Regions from separate parts of the Homo sapiens genome. Here region 1 is linked to region 2. Evidence: fine-mapped expression QTL. A gene starts in region 2. The other region holds a variant in brackets. All regions are shown on one strand. Distances are between the middles of the regions. Region 1 overlaps SLC1A4 (solute carrier family 1 member 4). Region 2 holds the start of LINC02576 (long intergenic non-protein coding RNA 2576).

Evidence for each region.
Region 1: its variant is fine-mapped to the expression of LINC02576 in skeletal muscle (GTEx, PIP 0.97).

The regions. Positions count from the first base shown.
Region 1 is chr2:64,995,606-64,999,605 of GRCh38, reverse strand. The region is part of intron 1 of SLC1A4 (solute carrier family 1 member 4); the gene reads right to left. Among named protein-coding and RNA genes, the nearest start is that of SLC1A4, 8.2 kb to the right of the region's middle. The variant C/GC (reference allele first, on the strand shown) is at 1,652.
Region 2 is chr2:65,028,276-65,032,803 of GRCh38, reverse strand. LINC02576 (long intergenic non-protein coding RNA 2576) reads right to left here and starts at 2,077. Exons shown (of 3, transcript NR_183398.1): 1 at 1,992-2,077; 2 at 1,545-1,858. RefSeq lists an enhancer at 864-1,727.

The sequences.
Region 1 (4,000 bases), 33 kb after region 2:
ACCTCCGATTGCAGCCTTGTAAGAGACTCTGAAGCAGAGGACCTAACTAAACTGTCCCAAGATTCCTGACCCCAGAGAGACTGTAGGATAGTAAATATGTGAGATTTTAAGCTGTTTAAGCTGTTAAATGTGTAGTAGTTTGTTATGCAGCAATGTATCAGCCAACAAAGTTAATAAGATGCAAAAATCAATGCATTAGAACACTTAGGGTGCTCTCACAGGACGGCCAGCATACACAGCCTGCAACACAGCATTTCCCAAACTTGTCCATAGAACCTGAGTTGCTTTTAGCATATTTAGAGAATACCAGAGTACATGTCTGCATTTAAGCAGAAAAAATTAATCTTTAGCTGAATTAAATTGTTGCAAAACTGTGACCAGAAGTTTGATTCTTATCACAGCTATATTTACTTTTTAAAAAGTAGAAACAGACTAGCAACTTATATTGGCTAGTTTTCGGAGTATAGATGAATAACAACTTACATTTGTTATTATTTCCATTACAAAGCAACTTTCTTACATATTTTAGTCTTGGGGACTACCTTTGGCATTTCATTTCCATTTTCTGCCCTAGTCAGAAGCAGCAAGGGGCCCTGTGCCAAAGTCTCTCTGTTCTGTATCCACCACACAACAATCCTCAGTTGTTGACAGACTGAGCTGCTCTAAGTTTCTCTTTCCATGAGGACCGGGAAGTTCAGAAAAGAGTTGGGTTAGAAGACCTCCACTTTCCTCATGGGAAACAATTTCCCCCGGCAAATACCTCACATCCTTCAGGGATTAGCTGTTTCCTCAATTGGTACAAGCACAGCCTTTCCCACAGCCTTGAATGCATTCTCTTCTAAAGAGCACAACACTATTTGTTTAATTCTGTCTATCTGTCCTGCCCAATCTTTTCATACAAGCAATAACCCAGTAACATCTCACCCAGAACAGGCCCTGTCCTTAACCCAGAACTTCTACACCTAACAGCCACTGGCACACCGACCTGTTTTCAGACTGTCTACAATATCTAGTCTGCAAAATCCAATGGGAACAGAGGGGTCCAGAAGCAAAAGAGCAACTTCTGCCCCCCAAAAATCAAGTTCCTAAGAAAAATGTGATGTGTTTTGACAGTTTCTGATAAAGTTAAACATACACTTACCATAGGACTCACCAATTCCATTCCTAGATTTTTTTTTTTTTTTTTGGAGACAGAGTCTCACTTTGTTGCCCAGGCTGGAGTGCAGTGGCAGATCTCGGCTCACTGCAGCCTCCGCCTCTGGGTTCAAAAGATTCTCCTGCCTCAGCTTCCCGAATAGTTGGGACTACAGGTGTGCACCACCACGCCCGGCTAATTTATTTATTTATTTATTTATTTATTTATTTTTCTGAGACGGAGTCTCGCTCTGTCTCCCAGGCTGGAGGGCAGTGGCGTGATCTCGGCTCACTGAAAGCTCCGCCTCCGAGGTTCACACCATTGTCCTGCCTCAGTCTCCCGAGTAGCTGGGACTACAGGCGCCCGCCACCACACCTGGCTAATTTTGTTTTTGTATTTTTAGTAGAGACGGGGTTTCACCATGTTAGCCAGGATGATCTCAATCTCCTGACCTCGTGATCTGCCCCCCTCAGCCTCCCAAAGTGCTAGGATTACAGGCGTGAGCCACTGCGCCTG[C/GC]CAATTTGTATTTTTAATGCAGACAGGGTTTCACCATGTTGGCCAGGCTGGTCTCAAACTCCTGACCTCAAGTGATCTGCCCACCTTGGCCTCCCAAAGTGCTAGGATTACAGGCATGAGCCACCACGCCCGGCCCACTCCTAGATATTTACCCAAGAAATATAAAAATATATGCCTGCAAAAAGGAACTGTATGCATAACAGCGTTATTCATAATAGTCCAAAACCCAAATGTCCATCAACAGATGAAGGGATACAAAGATTATGAAAACTCCATACAACGGAATACCACTTGGCAATAAAAAGGAGCCAAGTGATATACGCAACAACATGGATAATCTCAGCAACACTGTGCTGAGCAAAACAAGACTGACAAAGGAGAGTGCATACTGAATGATTCTGTTGATATGAAACTCTAGAAAAAGCCAAACTAATTTATAGTGATAAAAAGCAGGTCAGCTGCCTGAGGCCAGGGGTGGAGAATGGGGATTGCTGAGAAGAGTCATAGGTGATGGAAAAGTTCAGTATCTTGATTGTGGTGGTGGTCACATGAGTTATCCATTTGTCAGAACTCATTGAACTGGACCTTTAAAGTGGGTGCATTTATTGTATATAAATCCTACCTTGAAATTGTTTAAAAACTTATATAAAAAAGTATGGTAATAACTGTTAGAGATTTTCCAACTAAAAAATACGTACATTCAATGGGAGGGCTGAACTTTTTTTTAGATTATACAGCTCATTTCTCAGATAACAATCTCTGGGAAGGGCTCTCCTGGTGGCAGTGAGCTGAAGCACCATAGAAAGCATCCTCCTTTGCTTTCATCCTCTGCTTGCCACAGACCAAGAGCAGGAGCAGTGCCCTCCTGCTGTCACCAAGGGCAAGGAGATGAGGCTGCCAGAATAAAGCAACATGTTTCTCTGTCCTCTACTTTCCCTCTCTCCTTTGGCTTTCAGACACAGATGCTGCGGTAAACTCTGGTTCTTACTCCTGAGCTCTCTTCTAATCCGGGATCAGCTGCCTCTCTGGCAAACAGTTTTGCTTCCCAGAGCTCTGTCTTCAGGCATTTTTCCCAACTCCTCATGTTCACACAGTAGCTTCATGGGCTTTTGAAATCAGAGACAGTGAGCTGGAAGGGATTTTAGAGGTGATCCAGTTCTATCCCCTCATTTAGCACATAGAGACACCAATGCCCAGTCACTGAGCATCTCCCATTTCTGCTCCATCTAGGCCAGCACTGTCCAACTGAAATGCCTGCATTTGTGCTGCCATGTTGGACTATAGAGCACTTGAAATGTAGCTAGTGCCACCAAGGAACTGATTTTTAAGTTTTATTTACATTTGAAGTAATTTTAAATAGCTACATGTGGCTAGTGTCTATTGTATTGGACAGCCCAGATGTAGAGTACTGAAATCCAGAGTCCAGAAGTCAGGAGGACCAAATGGTCATCCTGTGTTCGCCTCTGCACATCACCCACTTTCACTGGGTGTTAGGATGCTTCTAAGCACTGAGCTCCTCATCTTATTCAAGTTTGCAAATATTTCCTTTTTCTGTTGTTTGATCCTGAGAGATCTACTTGAATTACATATGTATTAGGCCAAAGTTTCTCAAATATCAGTAGACCATTAAATCAGTGTATTGGCTTTAACCAGTATTTTATAAAAGATGAAATACATTAGACAAAAATATCAGTATATATCACACTTAAAATATTGTTTGGTGGAACCTGTGTTTTGGTTTGAGTATGTGGGAGTTGGGGGGCGGGTATAGTGTGGATGCCATAATGTAAAATGTACTTTTTATGGTAGGTCAAAATTAAAAACGTGTGAAACCTCTAAGATACACTACTAAATCTAGAGGCCCAAGTCAGTCCAAGCCAGGAGATAATGAATGAACAAGCTTTTCCAGCGCTATAAGACTCTTTGAATACATTACTTAAAACAAACAGAAAAACTGGTATGAAATGAGGTTGAACTGGCCAATGCAGAACCACTGTGGGAGGTGCTGTGCAGACCCATGCAGCTCACACAGTGAAAAACTTCAAAAACGTTCTGTAACATCTGATACTGTTTGTTCTTCTGATCCTATTGTCAAGGGTGGTATGCATTTCTCTGTTCTATATGAAAAGAATGTAAAACAATTTACTTTTGCTTGGGCATATTTTGTTCCAGAATTATTTCCTTTTATTTAAGTTCAAAAATTCTTTACCAAATCTATTAAAATTTCAAAGACTCTTCAGAACAGGATATGGCATGGTATGTACACCTGATAAATATTTATTATCGCTAGTATTTATTGTAACAGAGCCAGTTAACAGGGATGTGACCCTTCAGATCTTGGTACCCCCT
Region 2 (4,528 bases):
GAAGCGACTGTTGTCTTAGACAGAAATGGCACAGGAAAGTAGGTTTGTAAGTCAGAGATCACATGATATCAGAAAATGAAAGGAGATTTCATTTTAGCCCCCAGGAGGGACCCACACACAGGACAAACATCCACTCTTTTGTAGCCCATGCCGCTCTGCACAGGAGGGTCACCCCCTAAGCCTCACCCAGAAGCTCCTCCAAACCTCTTGTCACTGTAGTGGAGAGGAGAGGACCTTTCCTCCCGCTTCCAGCTGCCCTTCATCTCACTCCCAGACAGATAAGAGGGCTGAGGACTGGTAGGAGTGAATGACAAGGACAGAGGGCTGAGGGCTGTGGATGCCACCTTCCTGGGCTGTCACCCCTGGCCTGGTGTTGGTATCTGAAAAGGGGGGAGCGGGCTGGCAGTGACAGACAAAGTGGTGAGTGCAGGGGAATAGGCCCAATCTGCGACCCACGGTCCTCCCTCTCCTCCCCTCTACACCTGTCCTCCTGCTTCTCTTTCTCTGTAGAGTGAAACCCAATTCCAAACGTTAACAGAGTCTGGAAAAGGCATCCAAGTAAAAAAGTGCAAAAGTTGAAAATAGCCTTCCACGTTATAAGGGAGGTTCCACTCCCAGAAAGATAATGACGACTATAAAATTCCAAATGGCACTCTGCCCACTAGCCACATTCTTCAATAACACGGTCTTAGCAGTTTCACGTGTTATTTACAGGTGAAGAGGCAGTAGATCTTTTTTCCCACTGAGGTCTCATTGAGGATATAGATAGGCTGCTTCGGATACTACTGGTAATTTTAATTGTTTCAGTTTCATAAAATGTATGAGACTACACTTCTTATCACAAATATCGTTACTTCACTTCTTTCACTTAGAGAGAGAGGAAGAGGGGTGGAATAAAAGAACAAAGGCAGTGCAATAAAATACTCAAAATAGCTGTAAGACAAATATTGCTCAACAAAGTTGGTGGCAGCACAGAAACAGACCCACTGGCTGGTAGGCAGCAGCACTATGAGAGGGTTTGATGTATTCGCTCATTCACAAAGCCTGCCTTTGTCATGTAATAGGCACTTAGGGGAATCCAGAGCTTGTCTGGAATAGGGGGATGCGTCCTGCAAACAGAAGCAGTTCCAGACCCTGCAGGTTGGCTAGCCAAAGCCCAGCTAACTCCCATCAGGTGTACCTTCCTGAGCTGCACAGACGGAAAACCACAAACTGCTTTTTCAGACTTCCTTGCAGGTCTGCCAAGCAGAGCACCTGTGTGAAACTCAGAAGCTGCAGCTGGGAAGGTGGGCATGGGCCGTATGGGGTAGAGCTTGCTGGGAGATCTGATTGGGGTAGCTCTGAGGGAGGCTCCACTGCCCGGTTCCTAATGTCACAGGTGTGGGCAAGCACCTGCTGCGGAAACTCAGCACTCTTAACTACATTGTTCCTGGCTATTAGCCACCCACCTGTTTCCCTATCCGTCCCAGAAATTCTGTACATTCTTTAATTCTTCCCTGTAATCAGTGCTTTTCTGCTTTGTTGTCTGTACTTGGAACACTTACCAAGAAATTAACCAAATCAGAGATACTCAGCATGGGCTTGAGGAAGATGTGTTTTGACATCATTTTCTCCAAATCTCTCGAAGTTTGTGACAAGTCTTTTTCTGCTACACTTTCTTCTAGTTCCTGTTCACAGTTTTGACCTCTTCCTCCATTTTCTCTGATGTTTAGCTGATTTTTACCGTCTGTTCCATCATCCAGTTCTCCAAGGTGTTCATTTTGACATCCAGCCTGACACTTCCTTCGCACTTTTGTGGCACCTCTAGCACTGCCACTTGCTTGGTTTTTGACAGCTGGTACCATCAACAAACAAATGCCTTGGGGAAGAAAACATGTCAATTCGCATGGCTTGAAATGCAGGAACAAAACAGAAGTGCACACCGACCCGGAGCTTACAGTACAGCGTGCCATGAGAGCTTGCATTGGCCAAAAGCATGCAAGAATACTCACTGTAGCTGATGCATGTTGTAAAAGTCTGCATGAACTCTGTTCTTCAGTGCTGCAATTTCTGATGTGAACAGCACCATCAGCTTTACACAGAACAATACTCAGTGTGGCATATGTACTTTTATTATGCAAAAGAGCGGATGGCAGGACGTTTGAATATAGGGAAGTTGAAAGTCACCTGGAAATGCTTCATGCAAATAGCACTAACTAGGAAGAGAAGGCACCTGTGCTAAGAAAGGGATGTGAAGCGGCCAGTCCAGGATTTGCAGCCTTGTTTGTGTGTTACTATAGAATCGCCTGGGCTCTTTTAAAAAATATTTATTTATTTATTTATTTATTTATTTATTTAGAGACGGAGTCTCTCTCTTGCCCAGGCTGGAGCGCAGTGGCGCAATCTCAGCTCACTGCAACCTCTGCCTCCAGGGTTCAAGCGATTCTCCTGCCTCAGCCTCCTGAGTAGCTGGGATTACAGGCGAGTGCCACCATGCCTGGCTAATTTTTTTTTTATCTTTAGTAGAGGTGGGGCTTCACTATGTTGGCCAGGCTGGTCTTGAACTCCTGACCTCAGGTGATCCGCCTGCCTCAGCCTCTCAAAGTGCTGGGATTACAGGTGTGAGCCACTGCACACGGCCTGGGCTCTTTTTAAAAATGCCAATATATGGCAAAAAACAAAACAAAAATAAAGAGGAAAGTGGGGAGAAGGCCAGGGAAGTTTGGAGGACCCCAGGATTCCACTCACCTTACTGACCCTAGTGGTGTATTGGCTTTTTTAAGACAAGGTCTCACTGTTTCCTAGGCTGAAGTGCAGCAGCATGAACATGGGTCACTGCAGCCTTAACCTCCTGGGTTCAAATGATCATCCCACCTCAGCCTCCCGAGTAGCTGAGACCACAGGCACGTGCTACCACACCTGGCTAATTTTTAAAATTTTTTTGTAGAGATAGAGTCTCACTATGTTACCCAGGCTAGTCTCGAACGCCTGGGCTCAAGTGATTCTACTGCCTTGGCCTCCCAAAGTGCTGGGATTACAGGAGCGAGCCACCATACCAGGCCACTTTCCCCTTTATAAAAATTTAAAAAGAAAAGAAAATCCCAGTATTCAGGCACAAACCCAAACCAGTTTAATCAGAATCTTTGTGGGTGGAGTGCTGGTGGGTTGGTTTTTTGTTTTTTTTTTTTAGCGTGGATGAATCTAATGAGCCTTCAACATTGAGAACCAGTGGATAGGGCTTCTACTCTGCCCTATTTATCCTTGTGAATGTGGCTTTTCTTCCTCTTTCCACAGGCATTGTCTGAGGCTTTCAAATAAGTAACCTCGTGGGTTTTTGTAGTAAGTAGCATTTGTGGCTGGAGGCCAGCTTCCCATTCAAAGACTGTCTCTTCTTAAAGAATTCTTGATTCTTGGCCAGGCTTGGTGGCTCACACCTGTAATCCCAGCACTTTGGGAGGCCAAGGCGGGCGTATCATGAGGTCCGGAGTTTGAGACCAGCCTGGCCAATATGGTGAAACCTCTTCTCTACTAAAAATAGAAAAATTAGCTGGGTGTGGTGGCACACGCCTGTTGTTACAGCTACTCAGGAGGCTGAGGCAAAAGAATTGCTTGAACCTGGGAGGCGGAGGTTGCAGTGAGCCGAGATCGAGCCACTCCACTCCATCCTGGGCAACAGAGCGAGACTCCATCTCAAAAAAAAAAAAAAAAAAAAAAAGAATTCTTGATTCTTAATGGAACCACAGGTAGTCAGCAAGATGAAAAATGGAAATGATGATTCTGTAATTGTCCATGTTACAACAACCAGAGTATGAATTGCATTGCAGTTTTTTTGTTTGTTTTTTGTTTTTGAGACATTGTATTGCAAGACACCAATAGAGGCACTTACAGAGTCTCGCTCTATTGCCCAGGCTGGAGTGCAATGGTGTGATCTCAGCTCACTGCAACCTCTGCCTCCTGGGTTCAAGCAATTCTCCTGTCTCAGCCTCCTGAGTAGCTGGGACTACAGGCGTGCGCCACCACACCTGGCTAATTTTTGTAGAGATGGGGTTTCACCATGTTGGTCAGGCTGGCCTTGAACTCCTGACCTCAGGTGATCCACCTGCCTCAGCCTCCCAAAGTGCTGGGATTACAGGCGTGAGCCACTATGCCTGGCCTGCATTTCAGTTTTATCTGGGGAAAGATCATCTCCTTGGCTGACAGAGTGTAAACAAGAGTAGATTTCCCCTCAAATGAGGTCATCCATGGCCACTGTAGTTAGAGGCTTTTGGGAAATTACCTAGAATGGAGTTTTCCAGAAAAGACCATGAACCAGGGTGCCCACAGATGCTGAGGGTACTAGGTCTGTGATTCTCAAACACTCACATGCCCAAGTATTTGCCAGGAGCTTGTTAAATGCAGAATTCCTAGGCTGCCCACAGTGCTGCTGACCCGGCAGTTGTCAGCCTTGGCTGAAACCCCTGGGCAGCTTTGAAAATACTGGTGCTTGGGTCCCACCCCCAGAAATTTTGGTTATTTGCTTTCAGGTATGGCCTGGGCATGGGATTTTTCA